Linked DNA regions of Homo sapiens. The protein of the gene in region 2 interacts with the protein of the main gene of each other region in a pairwise test. Each region holds a gene or a part of one and is shown on either strand. Other genes may lie near its edges.

Region 1 (4,688 bases), on a different chromosome or scaffold from region 2:
AAAACTCTGTCCCTATTCAACACTGACCCCACAACCCTCCCCAGCCCCTGCACCCACCGCGCTTTCTGCATCTCTGAGCGTGACTACTCTAAGGACCCCGTGTACATGGAATCATCCGATATGTGGCCTTTTGTGCCCAGCTCAGTTCACTCTGTGTAATGTCTTCAGCGTTCATCCACATTGCAGCCTGTGTGAGAATGTTCTACCTTTTCAAGGCTGAATGATGTTCCATCGTATGGACGGACCGCATGGCGTCTGTCCATTTACCAGGTGATGGACTTGTGGGTTGCCTTTCCCTTTCCAGCCATGGAAACAGTGCTGCTGAGAACCCAGGTGCACAGGCAGCTGCTGCAGTCCCCACCCTCCCTTCTTCTGGGGATATCAGGTCTGCTGATTTTATGTCTGAAGGTCATGGGCCACTGTCCCTTCCCTATGCCCTTGAATCTCTTCCATGGTGTGTCCACTGTGTGGTCTTCCTGGATACCTCCAGCAATGGGGAGCTCACTGTCTCCCAGAGCAGCCCATTCAGGGCTTAGTGTGTAGCCCACACCTGTGTCCCTGTAGCTGCCACTCATTAGCCTCCTAACCCAGGACGCGTTTCCTTGTGCCCTTGGCAGGGGCTCCGTATTCACTCTGGGTTCTGTGGTCCTCACTCTGCACCACAGACTCTGATGCCTCCCTTCTCCCTCCCCGATTTCCAAGAGAGAACAAGATCTAGCCATGAGAAGCAGGATGGAGGTGTCTTCAAAAACAGCCACTGGTGATAGAAGTTGTAGGAAGGTACCATGGTCTGTCTGCCTCCACGCAAACCTCACCAGGTTTCATCAAGATAGCACACCAGGAGTGGTGTGGCTCATGACTGTAATCACAGCACTTCTGGAGGCTGAGGCAGGATCACTTGAGCCCATGAGTTAGAAACCAGCCTGGCCAACATAATGAGACTGCCATCTCTACAAATAATTTACAAAGTAGTGGAGCATGGTGGTGCACGCCTGTAGTCCCAGCTGCGCAGGAGGCTGAGGCAGGAGGATCGCCTGAGCCCAGGGGTTCCTGGCTGTCGTGAGCTGTGATGGTCTCACTGCACTCCAGCCTGGGCAACACAGCGAGAACCTGTCTCAAAAAACACAAAACAACAGGAAGCTCAGACAGGACTGTGGCTGCTTCAACCCTGTCCGTGGCCAGGCTGTGCCCCCTCCTCTGTCGCTGGGCACTCACCCCTCTCTCATTTTCTCCCCAGGGACCTACCAGGGCCAGTGGGTCGGTGGCATGCGCCAGGGCTACGGCGTCCGGCAGAGCGTCCCGTATGGCATGGCCGCGGTCATCCGCTCACCCCTGAGGACGTCCATCAACTCCCTGCGCAGCGAGCACACCAACGGCACGGCGCTGCATCCCGACGCCTCTCCGGCGGTGGCCGGCAGCCCGGCCGTGTCCCGCGGGGGCTTCGTGCTCGTGGCCCACAGTGACTCCGAGATCCTCAAGAGCAAGAAGAAGGGGCTGTTTCGGCGCTCGCTGCTGAGTGGGCTGAAGCTGCGCAAGTCGGAGTCCAAGAGCAGCCTGGCCAGCCAACGCAGCAAGCAGAGCTCCTTTCGCAGCGAGGCGGGCATGAGCACCGTCAGCTCCACGGCCAGCGACATCCACTCCACCATCAGCCTGGGCGAGGCTGAGGCCGAGCTGGCGGTCATCGAGGACGACATCGACGCCACCACCACCGAGACCTACGTGGGCGAGTGGAAGAACGACAAACGCTCCGGCTTCGGCGTGAGCCAGCGCTCGGACGGGCTCAAGTACGAGGGCGAGTGGGCCAGCAACCGGCGCCATGGCTACGGCTGCATGACCTTCCCGGACGGCACCAAGGAGGAGGGCAAGTACAAGCAGAACATCCTCGTCGGCGGCAAGCGCAAGAACCTCATCCCCCTGCGGGCCAGCAAGATCCGCGAGAAGGTGGACCGCGCCGTTGAGGCCGCTGAGCGGGCCGCCACCATCGCCAAGCAGAAGGCTGAGATCGCGGCTTCCAGGTAGGAGGGCGAGGGGGCGGGGGGCCCTTCTTGGTGCCCAGAAGGTGTTTGTGAGCCCAGTCTGTTCAGTCCTGCTGTCGCTCAAGGCCTTGGGCTAGGCCCAGTTTGAGGCCTACACTGGTGTTTCTCAAACTATGCCCCCATGGAACCCTAGGGTTCCCTGGAGGTTCTCAGAGGTGACTGTGGTCAGGATTGGTGCAGAGGAATGGTTGATTTGTGGGGGTGTAGAGGCCTACAGCCTCCTTAAACTGAGCAGTGTCTCTTTGTTCTATATGCTGATGTTTAGTGTAAAATATTGGTGAATAAAGAAGGTGGTCTGTTCCGTTAGTACAATGCATTGGAGTGCTGCTGTGCTAGCTAGTAGGGGTGACACCACCAGGTGGGGGTGGCAGGTCCAGCACTGCAGGGCTGTGGGAGGTGGCTAGGAGCTGCCTCAGCTACCCAGACCTGCGATCTAGATTCTTCCGGGACCCTGGGAGATGGCAGCAGTTGGGAGGCCAATTCCGAGTGCCTGGCAAGGGGCTCATGCAGGCCTGGTGCTTTGGGGGCAGCCGCTGTTCTGAATCGGCTGCATGACTTACGGAATTTGGGGTCCAGTGGGGCCTCTAGGCCCTAAGGAATGGGTCCAGAGGTGACTGTGGGTGGGATCGACGTGGCTTTTGGGTACCTTTAGGGGTGGGTGCAGGATGGGGCCTTTAGGGCTGGAGGAAGGTGCCCAGGGTCTGGCTCCTGTGGAGGTGAGTGTGTGAGCCAGGGGCTGGTCCCCGCCAAGCTGTGGCTGGCAGGAGCCACCTGCTGCAGGTTGGAGGAAGTTCCCCTGTGGAAAGCCACGGGCCCCACAGGTAGGCATTTGGGTTCTAAAGTAACTGAGGTTACTAAAGGGCTTTGTCAAGACTTGGGAAGGCATTTCAGAAAACCCAGAGCCTTTGCTTTCCACCGGCATTTGCTTTCCTGGGCCAGACGAGGGCCCTTGGGGTAGCCCGGAGAGTCTTGGGGCAGGGATCTGGGAGCTGCGGGGGAGTCCATGGGCTGCCCAGGCAGGAGGCTTCCCAGGGCACGTTCCCCTGCGTCTTTCTGGATGGCTTTGTGTTCTCAGCCAGGGGCAGACCTGGAGTTCCTCCAGGAAAGCTCCCAGCCTGGGTGCGGCTCAGCCCTTCCCGACCTGTCGCTAATTAAAGTTCAGCCCATTTGGTTCTGATTTTCAGTGACCTTTGATCTATAGTGAAAAACAAAAATGGTGGCTGCGGTTTGTTGGCAGAATATGTTGCTCGCGACTTCTATTGTTTTAGAGGGAATCAAGATCGATTCCAAGAAGCTGAAAGAAACATGGAATTACTACCTGACACCGAGGTCCAAACTCGCTGTTTGCCCCTCCCTGCTCCCTCAGAAATGTTCAGGCAGGGAAATAAACAGCAGCCCACGTGTGACTACTCATCTGGGGTTTTAAGAACAAATTAGAATCAGTAGTTATTTTTTCCATCATAAATGTAATACTTGTTCCACAGGAAAATAAATAACACTGAGAAGGGAGAAAGCAGCATTAGCTCTGGTCTGATGGATCGGCCGAGCGCTCTCCTTGGCATTTTGGTGAATTTCTTTCCTCTGTGTTTTGTTTTTCGACCCTTTCTATTTTGTATAGTTGCTTTTTTGACCCTAGTGGACAAGAAGCAGTTTTGGGGGCTGGGGGACAGCGGCGTCACGGAATTGAGGAAGCTCGTGGCAGCTTCCGTGTGACCTGCAGATTGGTTCATGAGTTCATTGGTTCATGAGTTCTCAGCAGCTCGAGGACTTAGTGGACAGTGCCCTGCAGGACTGAGCTTATTTCACAGCCTTGGCACTGGGTGGATGTCTGTAGGACTGGGGGGACCTGCGACCTGAGATAGTTTTCAGACGAATTCCCCTAGACATTAAGAGAAGCGGGTTCCCATTAAGGAGCCCAGGTGGCATGGACAGGGCTGGGGGCAGCACAGGTGAGGAGCTGCTCCAAGGCAGGTTGTCAGCCTCTCTGGACCTCAACTTCTAATCTCTGAAGGCCTGTGAAGCTTAGGTGGTAACAGCTCCCTTCCTGGGGCATCCAACCTCTTCCTGGGGTTTTGGGGGGCCCAGGGGCTCTGTGGAGCATTGCTGGGGGAGATGCCTACGTATAAGTGGGCATCATGCTGGGGTGAAAGCCCAGGGGCTGGGCCGGGAGGGCGAGACCTGAGACCCATGCAAAGGAGCCGGGGCCAGGGTGGGGTGGGCACGGCTCCTACTGAGTCCCCAGCCCTTGGGACGCTGGCCAGCCAGCCTTGGCATGGCCAGCATCCCTGTGTCTCCTGGGGAGGCATTTTACTTAATGGACAGAAGGACAGACAGACGGGTGGAGGGAGTGAGAGGGAAAGGATGGGTTTGCAGGCTGGTGCAGCTGTGAAACTGACGGAGCCCACCCCCTGCCAACCCCCCGACAGCCTTTGAGGCCCAGCAGCCCATGCTCCCTGGCAGGTTGCGGCTTGCCTTCTGCACTGGCGGAGTCCGAGCTGACTCCGTCCCTTCGCCCGAGCGGGCGTCGCGGGGAGGGAGGTGGTTCCTGCTTCCGCATGCGCACAACTGGGGTCTTGGATCGTAGCTCCTTTGTGAGAAAGGGACTGGCTCACCCGCCATGTCCTGCTGTCCACACACACGGCTCTGCACACC
Region 2 (4,341 bases):
ATTAGATTAAAATATTTACAATCCTCATATTAAATAACAGATCATGTATAAAGGACTCTCTGTGTACTAACCAAAATTCTGAACAAATTTAACATAACATGAAATCTTGGAAGATGTAAAATAACTTTTTAAGAAAAGGTATTTAGTAACAAAAACAAGCAATGGGGAAAGGATTCCCTATTTAATAAATGGTGCTGGGATAACTGGCTAGCCATATGCAGAAAACAAACTGGACCCCTTCCTTAACACCATATACAAAAATCAACTCAAGGTGGATTAAAGACTTAAGTGTAAAACCCAACACTATAAAAAACCTAGAAGAAAATCTAGGCAATACAATTCAGGACACAGCAAAGGCAAAGGTTTCATGACAAAGATGCCAAAAGCAAATGCAACAACAGCAAAAATTGACAAATGGTATCTAATTAAACTAAAGAGCTTCTGCACAGCAAAAGAAACTATCAACAGAGTAAACAGACAACTTAGAGAATGGGAGAAAATTTTTGCAATTTATCCATCTGACAAAGGTCTAATATCCAGCAACTATTATAAAGTTGAAAAGTTCCACCATCCCTGAAGTGAAAGGCATCGATGTCACTGCTCTTTTCATTTTATCTTCTCTTACACCTTTAGCTCCCAAATAGTTAAAGACTCTGCCCATAAAATCTGTCCAAAATCCTTTTTGATAAGAATCATGTAGTTCCTTGATAAGGAACTTAAACAAATTTACAAGAAAAAACAAACAGCCCCATTAAGAAGTGGGCAAAGACACAAACAGACAATTCTGGAAAGAAGACAATACATGTGCCCAAGAAATATATGAAAAAAAAGCTCAACATCACTGATCATTAGAGAAATGCAAACTAAAGCCACAACGAGATACCATCTTATACTAGTCAGAATGGCTATTATTAAAAAGCCAAAAAATAACAGATGCTGGCAAGGTTGTGGAGAAAAAGGAACACTTTTACACTGTTGGTAGGAGTGTAAATTAAATTAGTTCAACCATCGTGGAAGACAGTGTGGTGATTCCTCAAAGACGTAGAGGCAGAAATACCACTTGACCCAGTAATCCCATTACTGGGTATATACCCAAAGGAATGTAAATCATTCTATTATAAAGATACATGCAAGCGTATGTTCACTGCAGCACTGTTCACAATAGCAAAGACATGGGATCAACCTAAATGCCCATCAATGACAGACTGGATAAAGAAAATGAGGTACTTATACACCATGGAATATTATGCAGCTATAAAAAGGAATGAGATGATGTCCTTTACAGGGACATGGATGGATCTGGAAGCCATTATCCTCAGCAAACTAACACAGGAACAACAACAAGAAAAACCAAACACCATGTGTTCTCACTTATAAGTGGGAGCTGAATCATGAGAACACGTGGAAGGGAATAACATACCCTGGGACCTGTCAGAGGGTGGGGGTGGGAGGAGGCAGAGCATCAGGAAAACAGCTAGTGGATGCTGGGCTCAATACCTAGGTGATGTGATGATCTGTGCAGCAAACCATCAGGGCACACACTTACCTATGTAACAAATCTACACATCCTGCACATGTACCCCTGAACTTAAAAGGTGGAAATCAAAAAAATTAAAAAAGTATTTAGCTTAAAATCAATTTCTAAATATCAATATTATAAGTAAATGATTGCTGACACTCTATATGATATTCTAAACAAATTACCTGAGAACTGGAGGCCAATTTAATTCTTCCAAACTAGAAGTAACTTGGTTAAGAGTTTTCACATGTTTATTTATAGCTGCTCTAGATAGTTTAGCTCTGGGGTGCCAAATAATTTGAATACACCTGAGTAATCATACTGTTTGTGGTGTGACAATTACTTATGTCTCTGTTTTCATTAGAATATAATGAAGGTGATTAATTATAAATCTCAAGAGAAAAGGAAAGAATAAGCTGGTCAACTGATGGTAAGAATAAACATTATTTATAAAAAATAACTATATAGAATATCCAGAAAAGGATATAATTAATGTGTGTAAACAGATAATAATAATAATTTTGAGAGTCATTATATGTCAGGCACTGACCTAAAAACTTTGCAATATCATACCATTTAATTGTCACAACCCTATTAAGTAGGAATCATTATTATCCTCATCTTAAAGATATATAAGCTGGATCTTGAAGTGGTTAGGTGTTAGTAAAGTGCCAGAGCTGGAATCTTAGGTTGATTTGATTCCAGACTTCATGCTTTTAAGTACCAAATTCTAGTGTTAAAAAATAGAATATTTAATGACTACTCATTAGTTTAAAAATATAACACTAAGTAGGTAATTTTGGCAGAAAGATATTTAATTACATAAAAACATTCATTACTTTCAAAGTACACACTAACCATAACACCACATCTGTGATACTCTTTATAACCATTTTGAGGTTTTTACAAGAAATCCTAAAAAGGCAAAGAACCACAGCAATAAGAAAAAGATCAATTAAAAATGAAAAACATGGCATTTAACCACACATATTCTCCAGTTTATAACAGTAGACACCCAGTAGTGAAGACAGAATAGAGCTCTTGACTCACATAAGACTAAGTATTCTGTGTCTCTTAATTTAGAATATCTAGAGAATAATTAACCTATAGGGGTATCACCTGTTGTGTGAATGTGGCTGGTACATAGTTTTTGTTATTCTGGATCCTTGTATCACTAAATGCCTAATCCAGATGCTTCTGACTGGTTCCCTGAAATTTAAATGCAGAATTCACTTTCCTACAGAAACAATGTAATAAATAATAAGGCATAATTGACAATCACAGTAGTACTGTAACTAGGCACATTTTAAATTAAATATGCTTTTTGAGAATTCTGAATTTATAATTAAAACAAATTTCAAATGTAACTCACTGTTGTTTGAAAACTGCCTCAAACCTAAACTTAATTAGCCACAAATTACTGAAATTCCTGAATTATTAGCCTCAAAATAGCATGAGACTGAGGTAACATAGTTCCCCTGCTGATCTGAAAGTGCACTTTTAAAATTTTCCCATCTTTTTCTGTTAGTATTTTCTCACCACTCAACATAAACCTTTAAAAAATACTTACCCAACTTAGTATTTCCAAGACAATCTTACTTCAGCATTGGGATTAGGATAAACAATCATGACAATCTTCAGTTTTAAACATCAGCCAGTTGTTTTCAAATATTACTCCTATTCTATATACAGGGAACAGAGTCTTCTGGTTTGGAGCAAAATAATGGAAACTTCTTAACTCCTAAAATTAATAAAAGTATTTTAAAAGCTTTAACATTTGTATTTTCAGGCCGGGCGCAGTGGCTCACGCCTGTAATCCCAGCACTTTGGAAGGCCGAGGCGGGGGATCACGAGGTCAGGAAATGGAGACCATCCTGGCTAACACAGTGAAACCCCATCTCTACTAAAAATACAAAAAATTAGCTGGGCGTGGTGGCGGGCACCTGTAGTCCTAGCTACTTGGGAGACTGAGGCAGGAGAATGGTATGAACCTGGGAGGCGGAGCTTGCAGTGAGCCGAGATCGCGCCACTGCACTCTAGCCTGGGCAACAGAGCGAGACTCCGTGTCAAAAAAAAAAAAATTTTTTTTTTTGTATTTTCTAATTATGTTGTTTTTCTAATGTCAGAAAAGCATCTTTTGGCAATAGGAGAACAAAGTTTTGCTTTCCACTTGGTATCGACTTGGTGTCGAAAATAAGAAATGTTATGTGAAAATAAGTTTTTGTCCAGTGGATAAAATCAGTGTTAAGCTGATTGAGATTTTCAGAGTCCATTTTTTCTTTGTACTTGTTTAATAATAGAGGAGTTCCACATTCTGTTGTCAATAGACATTTAGTGCTGTACTAGAAATTAAAATGTCTCCAAAAATTAAGAATATGAACAAAGATTTAGTTTTAAGAATGTGAATCTGTTTTGAAACCAATTTGTTAAAATTCCAAAAAGTTAACTGTTCTCTTCAAAAGCACAATCTATGTCTATTTGGTATGTCTGCAATGTTTCCATAGTGTAACAATATCCTGCATACTTTACACAATAATGAAAATTAAAAACTACACAGACATCCAAGAATTGGGAAATAATTAAGTAAGATATGCATGTGATAGCAAATAACAGAATATCCAGCCAGTAAAAGCCAAGATATTCAGTTCAAATTAAATAAGCAAGTCACAAAATAGTGTGTACAGTATAATCCTGTTTTTGTTTTAGAAAATGTTTACATGTGCAGTGGGATGGTTATGGTTGGTTCAACCGTAGTTCACACTTTTTCTACATCAATTTTGTAATAAAATTTTTTTCTTCTCAGAATAATTTAAACTCTGTTT
Region 3 (5,386 bases), on a different chromosome or scaffold from region 2:
GATACCTTGATGATGGGCTTCCAGCCTCTAGGGATCGTGAGAAATAAATGTCTATTGTTGCAGCTCCCCAGTCTGTGGTGTTGTCACGGTGCCCCACGCTGACTAGGACAGAGAGCCTGTGTTCTACAGTGTCCACAGTCCTCACCACTCCCAAATGTCATGCATCCCATTCCTATATACATTGTGCACAGTCTCTGTCAGTATCTGGGTTTGCAACCCCTAATCTAGAGGAAAAGAGTAATGATTCTCCATGTATGTTGTGTGTTCTTATTTCAAAGTTTTGATGTTCATATCTCCTTTAAATCTCCCCACACTTCTAAGAGGCTGATACTGTCATCTCCACTTGGCAGAAGAGAAAACAGAGCTCAGAAAAGGGAAAAATTACTTTTCCTAGGTCAATGTTTGGGTGGAACTCAGGCCTGCTGGCTCAGGGCCCAGAGCTCATGTTCCTCCACCATGGCCCCTCAGCTAACAGGGGAGTTACTAACAGGGCAGTGATGTGTATGCGCATGTGTATGTGTGTTATAGGAGTAAGCCACTTAACAGAAGTGAACAAATCCAGGGGAAGGTTATTTGCTTGAAAAAATATTTGGCACATAATTCCTTTCAAAAGAAAAGCTAGAATGGGCTGGGCGCGGTGGCTCATGCCTGTAATCCCAGCGCTTTGGGAGGCCGAGGCGGGCGGATCACAAGATCAGGAGTTTGAGACCAGCCCGGCCAATATGGTGAAACCCCGTCTCTACTAAAAATACAAAAATTAGCTGGGTGAGGTGGTGTGCGCCTGTAGTCCCAGCTACTGGGGAGGCTGAGGCAGAAGAATTGCTTGAACCCAGGAGGCGGAGATTGCAGTGAGCCGAGATTGTGCCACTGTACTCCAGCCTGGGCAACAGAGCGAGACTCCTTCTCAAAAAAAAAGAAAAAAGAAAAAAAAGAGAAGCTAAAATGGAATATAACTAACAGAAGTTTGATTTATGCAAGAGTTCATCTCACAGAGGTAAATTAAGGTTGGCAGGCCTTTGACCAGGAAGAAGGAGTGGGTGAAGCTGTGGGTGTGGAGAGAGACTCTGTTACCCCACAGTGAACATTTAGGAGTAGGAAGCATCAGTGATTGAGACAGCAGGAGAGACTGTCTGATCAGCAGGGTCAGCATAAGAGAAGGAATAGCGAGACAGGGGGGAGGAATAGGGAGATTTGCAGAGGAAAAAAGTGACACCTTGGAGAACTTGCTGAACATTCAATGGAGACAGAGTGGCTTCAAACGTGACTCCAGCCTTGTGAAAAATAATCTCAGTTCATCCATACAATGACACACTATGCCCATTAGAAGAACAAAGTAAGCCTGTATATGCAGATATGAAAACATGGCGAAGACACACTGTTAAGTGAAAAAAGCAAGTTGTACCATGGAATGTAAAGTATGCTTCTCTTTGAGTTTAAAAAAAAAAAAAACAGCACAAATACAGAGTATATATATGTACAGAAGGGTTGGGGAAATACTTTCCGAAAAGACACAATCTTGTTAAGGGGTTACCTTTCAGAATTGGGAGGGGGTGTGTGGGCTTTTACTTTTCTCTTTCTACCTTTTTGAACTGTTCGAATTTCTTGTGATGAGCGTCGTTACTTTTATAACATTTAAAACAAAAGGTAAACCTAAGGTTTAAGGATTGGAAGACTGGTAAGTGTGGTATCCCTGCTAGGAGATGGGGAGAAGTCAGACATTTGGGAGGAAACAAATTCTGCAGTGAATCTGATGTGTTACAATGAAGGGCTGTAGTGATGCTTGGAAATGTGTGGAGAGTTTGAGGATCGGGCAGTTGAAAGCAGGAGTAATTGATATAATTACTCCAGATGACAGAATAAATTAGAGAATGGTGCAGAGGGAGGGCAAAAATAAGGATGTGAGAGGACAGATTTTTAACAGTGCTAACTGAGCACCAGCCTTGGATTGACCTATGTAAGACATTGTCTTTCTATTACTGCTACTTCAGCATGGTGGAAACACAGGGTCTCTGAGAGATGGCCAGTCTAAGGAAGGGACCTCTGCAGGCTTCCAAGCAGGGCAATTTTGTGGTCAAGGAGCAGAGGAGGATCACAATGAGGTAATGCAAGGGACTCATGGTGTCAGAGGAGAGACCTGGGCTGGGAGACTATTAGGGCCCACTGCAATTATTTAGCTGAAAAGCGAGGTCCTAGAATGGGGCAGCAGCAGTGGGGATGGAGAAATAAGGACAAAGCATATTAAGACAAGTAGTTTAGGTGGGGAAGGAGAGTGAAGAGAGTCATGAGGCATTGAGTACAAATCTCTGCCTGCCGTTCAATACCTTTTGAGCTCAGTTTGCCAGTCTGTATCATATATTTAAATAAATGTGAAGGTTAAGTGAAATAATGCATTCAGTAAATGTTAACTGTGATTGTTAGCTCGGGTATTGGACTCAGATTTACCAGACTTCAAGTCCCTTTTTTATCAATTACTAGCTGTGCAACCCTGTCCAAGTCATTAATGTCTCTGAGCCCAGTTCCTCTTTTGTAGACGGGGATAATCTGTTGTCATGAAAATGAAAGAGCACAAGTAAAGTGCTAGCAGGACTTGGCACAAAGTAGGCGCTCAATAAATGGCAGAGCTACGGGTGTTACTATTGTAACGGGTAAACCACTGGGCACAGAGCCTGGCACACAGTAAGGACTCAAAACATGTTAATTTGTATTATAATACGAAGGTAGAAGTCGAGAGGCAGGAATGCAGGAGCTGCCCAGCCCGCAATAAAGGCGCGCTGGCAGCTCTCCCACCTTCCGCATCCCGCCCCGCCCGCAGCAGTGCGAGTCCTCCTCCTCCTCCTCCCCGCGCGCACTTGCCGCCCCCGCCCGACCGCGGTGCGGGACACTCACCCTCGCGGCTGCCCGCCACGTCCAGGGGCGTCCGGAGCAAAGAAGCTCTCGGCGGGGCTCCGCGTCCCGGCTTTCCTCAGCGGCAGCAGCCGGGCAGAGCGTCGGCCCCAGGCATAGTTTTCCCATCCCGTCATGGGCGGGAGAGCCTTCCTCCCGGTCACGTGGGCTGGCCCGCAGCGCAGCATTCTCTTTTTAGCAGCTGTTTGGAAAAAACTTGCAGTGCTGATGACAACTCGGGTGTGTCGATGCATCTCTGCGTTTGTAGAGCTTGTTAGCGTATTTGGAGGTTTTGTGCGCCAGAGTGATCAGAGTGATTGTTTCCCACGCGTTTGCAAAGGTGTGCATGTACTTGAGTGTGATGATAAATCATAGGGATGTGTTTAGTTGTGTGTGTGCGTACGTGCGTTTATCCAAATTTTCATCAGGGCTGTTCGGTGTATGTACACATGCATGCACATGTCCAAGATGGCAGCTTGGTGTAAAACTGGAGGGCACATCAGTGGTTGGATGTACACGATAGTGGCTAGACATCTGTATGTGGGGTGCATGTTTAAATGTGTGTGTGACTGTGCAGGGGCTCATTCTGTGTGTTGGTTTGACATCTGTATGTGGGGTGTATGTTTAAATGTGTGTATGACTGTGCAGTGGCTCATTCTATGTGTTGATTTCTATGCATGCCTTGGTGTGGATTTTGTCCGGATGTGAGTGTGCACATACACACTAGTGTGGGTGAGTTCCCCTGTGTACCAGCTCTCATTTCTCTTCTCCCCAGAAGGTGAGGATTCACTGGTCTCACTCACTCTGGCCCAGCCTCAAGTCATTGAGAGACTTATGGAGGGTCTCAGCTCCCAGGATAGGCAAAGCAATCCTATTTGGGAATCAAGCAGGCACTGGAGGAAAGGAAATCCTCCAAGGCCTGGCTTTTGCTTCTCCCTGTTCCTTCCACTGCTCTCTTCCACTAGCTACCCATATTTCACTCTGCACAGCCAGAGCATCTGGTTAACAGCTGGTAAGTGACACAAAATTTACAGTCAGAATTTTAATACAGATATGCATTTGAATTCTAATGTTGTATCCACCACCTTAATCAAGTCAGATAATCTCACAGATGGTGTTTTATTTTCTAAAAAAAATGGGAGAATAATATTACCTGCACTGCCTTTACCCCAAAGTTGGGACACTAACTCATAAAGATGTTTGGTAAGCCATTGAACTATGTAGGGAATTATTACTAATATCACATAAATACTATTTGAGAAAGAAAGTTTGTAGGCTTAACAAACATTCATTCAACAAATATTTAATAAGCATCCATTGTGTGTCAGTCCCCAAGCAAGGTGCTGGGGACATAGAGGGAAACAAATAGGCTTGATGCCTACCCTCATGAAACTTAGAGTCCTCCAGCTGGGGATGACACAAGTGGTTACAAGTGAAATGAGTGTTATAGAAAAGAAAAGCTTAAAGTATAAACTGGGCAGTCAGGGGAAGGCCTGGGAAACTGATGTTTCAGGTGAACCCTGAGAGATGACTGAGACTTGTCTGAATGTAGGGGAAGTGTGAGCTCAAAAAATGAAGGAATGATAACATGTGGAGTGGAGTTTAGGGTGTTGATACACAGATGGCTGGAAAGGAAACTTCCATCCACCGCCTCTTGGGTCAGATGTGTCAGCAATTGGAAAGGTGAGGAAACTGCTTAGAATGCCTGGAGGCCATTCAGAATCTAAAGGGCTCAGGAAAGCCCCTCTCCTAGAGTAGAGTGGTAATATCTGTGTGTTATCCATGTGGCTCCATCATGACAGAGGTTGAAATCACTGGCATGCTCTCATTGGTTAAAAAAAAAAGGTTAATGAAAAGTTAAGAAAGGCAGTGCTGCTATACCTGGTAGTGTGAAACATTTAATAAACACTACTGATTGAATGAATGGGGGCACATGTTTTTCCAACTTTTGAAGGATACCTGGAACCTAGGTTTCCTGAAGCCTAGCAGAGTTCCTGGGTCCCTGTCCTATGGTTCCTTGCAGTGGTGATGGCTTCATGTAGCATGCAATCCAAAATACTTGTCCGGTGGCAGTTCCACGAGCTGCAGGAACTGTGTCAAGCTAGAATGGGGCTTAGAACTTCCTCTCCCTAGCCTCTCTCTGTCTTTACTCTCTGCTTGAATTCAGTCTACGAACATTTGTTTGTTTGTTTGTTTAAGATGGAGTCTTGCTCTGTTGCCTAGGCTGGAGTGCAGTGGCACAATCTCAGCTCACTGCAATCTCCACCTCCCGGGTTCAAACGATTCTCCCGTCTCAGCCTGCCAAGTAGCTGGGACCACAGGCGCGCAACACCACACTAGGCTAATTTTTGTACTTTTAGTAGAGATGGGGCTTCACTATTTTGCTCAGGCTGGTTTTGAAATCCTGGCCTCATGTCATCCAACTGCCTCGGCCTCCCAAAGTGCTGGGATTACAGGCGTGAGCCATTGCACCCGGCCACAGTCTATAAACATTTATTACCTA
Region 4 (4,688 bases), on a different chromosome or scaffold from region 2:
CTAGTCAACCACTAGAAGGATAAAAAAAGAAAGAAAAATGACAGCTAAGAGACAATCAACGACTTGATCCTTCTCCATCTCCAGAAGATAAAACAGTAGAGACACATTTGGAAATTTCCTTTCATACTTCATATTTTTTGGACTTAGATATTGCTTTTTAAATTTCTGTTATTTATATACTGAACAACTCTCCAATTTAATGTGTACAAGACACTGGTTTTTTAATATATTCACAGAGTTGTACAACCATCACCCCAATCAACTATATAACAATTCCATCACCCCAAAAAGAAACTGTACCCATTAGCCGTCACTCCCCATTTCCTCCTAATACCTGCCACCCGCCCCAGGCAACACTAATCTATTTACTGTCTCTATAGATTTGCCTATTATGGACATTTTGTATATACAGAATAATCCAATATGTGAACTTTTGACTGGCTTCTCTGACTTAGCAAAATATTTTCAAGATTCATCCATATATGGCTTGTATCAGCACTTCATTCCTTTTTATTGCCAAATATCCCATTCTACATTTTATTTCTCCATTTGTTGGTTGATAGACATTTGGGTTGTTGCTACTTTTTGGCTATTACGAATTGTGCTGCTATAATATTCATGCACAAGATTTTGTGTGGACGTATTTTCAATTCTCTTGGGTATATACCTAAGAGTAGAACTGCTGGTGACTCTATGTTTAACCTTTTGAGGTATCGCTAGATAATTTTCCAAAGCAGCCCATCATTTTACAATCCCATCAGCAGTCAAGTGGGTTGCAATTTCTCCACATTCTCATCAACACTTGTTGTTATCTGCCTTTTTCATGATAGCCACCGGGTGTGAAGTGCTATCTCATTGCGGTTTTCAGTCGCATTTCCCTGACAGCGAATGGTGCTGAACATCCCTTTTGTGTGCTTATTGAAGATTTGTATATCTTTTTGGAGAAATGTCTTCTCAGATCCTTTGCCCATTTTTTAACTGGGTTACTTGTTTTTTTGAGTTGTAACAGTTCTTTATATATTCTAAATGTCTATATCTTATTGAATATGATTTACAAACATTTACTACCATTTCATGGCTTGTCTTGGCATATTCTTGATGGTATTCTTTGTATCACAGAAGTTTTTAAATTTGATGAAGTCCAATTTTATCCAAGAAACCATTGCTTAACTCAAAAATTTACTCCTATATTTTCTTCTAAAAGTTTTACAGATTTAGCTCATGTGTTTAGTTCTGTGATCCATTTTGAGTTAATTTTTGTACACGGTGTGAAGAAAGGGTCGAAATTCACTCTTCTGCATGACAATATCCAGCATCATGTGTTGAGAAGATTATTCTTTTGCCCTTTTAACTGCGTTGGGACTCTTGTCCAAAATCAATAGTTTGTTTCTGAACTCTTAATCCTATTCTATCAATCTGTAAATGTCTATTCTTATGCCAGTACCAGATTGTCTTGATTATTATAGTTTTATGTTGCTCAATCGTTTACACTGCTTTTTTTTTTTTGAGACGGAGTTTCACTCTTGTTGCCCAGGCGGAGTGCAATGGCAAGATCTCGGCTCACTGCAACCTCTTCCTCCCAGGCCAGGTTCAAGCAATTCTCCCACCTCAGCCTCCTGAGTAGCTGGGATTAAAGGCATGTGCCACCACGCCCAGGTAATTTAGTATTTTAGTAGAGACAGGGTTTCACCATGTTGGCCAGGCTCGTCTCGAACTCCTGACCTCAGGTGATCTGTCCGCCTCAGCCTCCCAAAGTGCTGGGATTACAGGTATGAGACACTGCGTCCGGCGTTACATTACGTTTTAAAATAATTTTTATATAAATTCCACATGCCAATAGAAGATTTTTAAAAGATAAGATTTTTATCACTGTCTATCCAATTATATATTAGAAATTTTACATTCTCCAAGAAAAGGAGCATTTCCTCTTCAACATCCTGTTATGAAGACAGAGACTGAAGAAAACATTCCTCTCACTCATTGGTTTCACCTATGTCCCACATTCTCTTTTTTTTGAGACAGTCTCACTCTCACCCAGGCTGGAGTGCAGTGGCCCAATCTCGGCTCACTACAACCCTCACCCCTTTAGGTTCAAGCGATTCTTGTGCCTCAGCCTCCCAAATAGCTGGGATTACAGGCACATGCCACCACTCCTGGCTAATTTTTTTGTTGTTTGTTTGTTTGTTTGTTTGTTTAGCAGAGATGGGGTTTCACCATGTTGGCCAGTGGGTCTCAAACTCCTGACCTCAGGTGATCCACCCGCCTCAGCCTCCCAAAGTGCTAGGATTATAGGTGTGAGCCACCATGCCTGTCCCCACATTCTTGAACTACAGCTATTCACAATTGTATCTGTGGGCAAACGACCCCAAGGTTCAATAATTATTCATACTTTTCACTTCACATTATCTTAGAAAGTAAAGTGTTTGAAAAAAATTTATTTGTATACCAGTGCTTACTATATGAATGACATTAAAAATGGTTGTGCAACACTTTATATCTTGCAAAGCACTTAAACAAACATTACCTTATTTGAATTTCATAAACATCATGAGAAGTTGATGAGCAAGTATTATTTCCCCCCCAAGTAATTATGGCCTTAAGAATGCATGTGCGATTGCTAAGGGATACAGGCATAACTCTAAAATTACTGCTTCATAAAATAGTTCCAGTATATTCTTGTAAGATTTTATTTTACAGCAATAAATACAGAAATGCTAAAAACCACTGCTGAGCTTCTGTGGAAAGAATAACATACTGCTAGCAACTAATCAGCCTCTGGATTTCATATCACTAGAGATTATAATTATAATTATAATTCTAGCCAATGTCCCTGCTTGTTGATAGTTGCTCCCATTACCATCACATCATGCCTATCACAAAGGGCATTCTGTCCCTTAAGTACTTTTGAGTGAGGCCACAAAGTTTCTTTTTGATCTAGAGATGGGATTTTTTTCAAAAGATACTGATAACAAACTATAGGGGGGAGAAAAGCAAAAATAAATCAACTACTACATCCCACACACACCAGAAAAAAAGATTAAAATATGGCAAATGTAAGAACATAAAATATTTAACATAATAAGTCTAGCCAATTCAATTTCAGTTTAATTCAAATTCTGCACACCTATTTGGTACCAAGCACACAATGAATAAGACAGTATGGTGCTTATGTAAGTATAGACATACAGATCAATGGAACAGAATTGAGAATCTAGATATGAGCCTTCATATTTATGATCAAATTTACTTTTTAAAAAGGTGTCAAGGTATTTTATTAAGGATATAAGAGTGTTGTGCTGGGAGAAGTGTCTATGCATATGCCACAATTCACAAAAATTAACTCAAAATATGGATCACAGACTCTTAAAGGAAGAACTAAAACTATAAAGCCTCTAGAATAAATCATCATGACTTGTGTTAGGCAAAGATTTATTTAATGAACACCAAAAGTACAATCCATAAAGTCACAAACTAGACTTGATAACAATTTAAAACTTTTGTGCTTCAAAAGACACAATTAAAAAACCAAAAAGACATCCCCAAAATATGTACATCTATTTTGTATCAATAAAAAATTAAAAAGAAAAGGCAAGGCATAGCCTGGAAGAAAGTATTTGCAAATCATGTATCTGATAGAGGACTTGTTTTCAGACATATAAAGAAATCATACAAATCAATAAGAAAATACACAAAAATGAGCAAAAAATTTGAATAGATATTTCCAGAAGATATAAGAATGGCTGATAAGCATATGAAAAGATGTCTGAAATCACCAGTTATTAGGAACATGCAAATTAAAACTACAATCAAATACATTACATACCCACTAGAATGGCTATAATCAAAACAAGAGATAATATCAAGCGTTGGCAAGGATGCGTAGGAGCTAGAACTCTCATATATTGCTGGTGGGAGTGAAAAATGGTAGTCATTTTGAAAAACAATTTGACAGACTCTTTAAAAGTTAGACATAAATTCACCACACAACCCAGCAATTTCACTCCTAAGTAACCACCTACGAGAAATTAAAACATATCCACACAAAGACATACGTCAAATGTGCATAGCAAGCCTATAACCTGGTGAATAAACAACATTTATACAATGAAATACTATTCAGTGATACGGCTGAATTAACTACTGCCACATGCTACAACACGGATATACCTCAAAAACATTATGCTAAGTGAAAGAAGCCAAACACAAAGACTATACATTCTATGAGTCCATTATAGGTTACAAGAAACTGCAAATCTCTAGAGACAGAAAGTAGATCAGTGGTTGCCAGGGGCTGAAGGTGGGAGTAGGGATTGACTACAAATGGCTATGAGGGAATTTTCTGAGATTATGGAAATGTTCCAAAACTAGACTGTGTTTATGGCTGCACAACCATGAGTGAATTATATACTTGCAATGGGTGAATTTTATAGTATTTAAATTATAACTCAATACAGCTGTTTAAAAAAAAAACACACTTGATCCCACACCATTCTACTTAAAAACTAGAATATTACCTACAGACCTTATGGCCCATCTATATACTCTTCCCTTAGTCTCATCTTCGTGCCTCGACAAGGTAACCATTACCTCAACTTAGTGTTGATCATTTCCATGTTTTTGTTGTTTTACAGATGCATCACTAAATAATATAATTTCATTTTGTTTGGTTTCTTAACTTTTTATTATGA

What was found. Proteins that work in one complex are often made in the same cells at the same time.
Region 1: the proteins of PHOSPHO2 (region 2) and JPH3 interact in binary tests that used the Homo sapiens proteins (3 or more experiments, as listed by UniProt).
Region 3: the proteins of PHOSPHO2 (region 2) and C1QTNF2 interact in binary tests that used the Homo sapiens proteins (3 or more experiments, as listed by UniProt).
Region 4: the proteins of PHOSPHO2 (region 2) and GKAP1 interact in binary tests that used the Homo sapiens proteins (3 or more experiments, as listed by UniProt).

The regions. Positions count from the first base shown.
Region 1 is NC_000016.10:87,643,021-87,647,708, forward strand, and holds part of JPH3 (junctophilin-3), read left to right. Parts: intron 1-1,237; coding exon 1,238-2,015; intron 2,016-4,688. UniProt on the Homo sapiens protein: Junctophilins contribute to the formation of junctional membrane complexes (JMCs) which link the plasma membrane with the endoplasmic or sarcoplasmic reticulum in excitable cells.
Region 2 is NC_000002.12:169,696,280-169,700,620, reverse strand, and holds part of PHOSPHO2 (pyridoxal phosphate phosphatase PHOSPHO2), read right to left. Parts: intron 3,261-4,341; 5' UTR 3,090-3,260; intron 2,757-3,089; exon of another isoform or gene 2,639-2,756; intron 1-2,638. UniProt on the Homo sapiens protein: Phosphatase that has high activity toward pyridoxal 5'-phosphate (PLP).
Region 3 is NC_000005.10:160,367,626-160,373,011, forward strand, and holds the start of C1QTNF2 (complement C1q tumor necrosis factor-related protein 2 isoform 1 precursor), read right to left. Parts: upstream 3,002-5,386; 5' UTR 2,887-3,001; intron 1-2,886. UniProt on the Homo sapiens protein: Involved in the regulation of lipid metabolism in adipose tissue and liver.
Region 4 is NC_000009.12:83,769,069-83,773,756, forward strand, and holds part of GKAP1 (G kinase-anchoring protein 1), read right to left. Parts: intron 1-4,688. UniProt on the Homo sapiens protein: Regulates insulin-dependent IRS1 tyrosine phosphorylation in adipocytes by modulating the availability of IRS1 to IR tyrosine kinase. Its association with IRS1 is required for insulin-induced translocation of SLC2A4 to the cell membrane.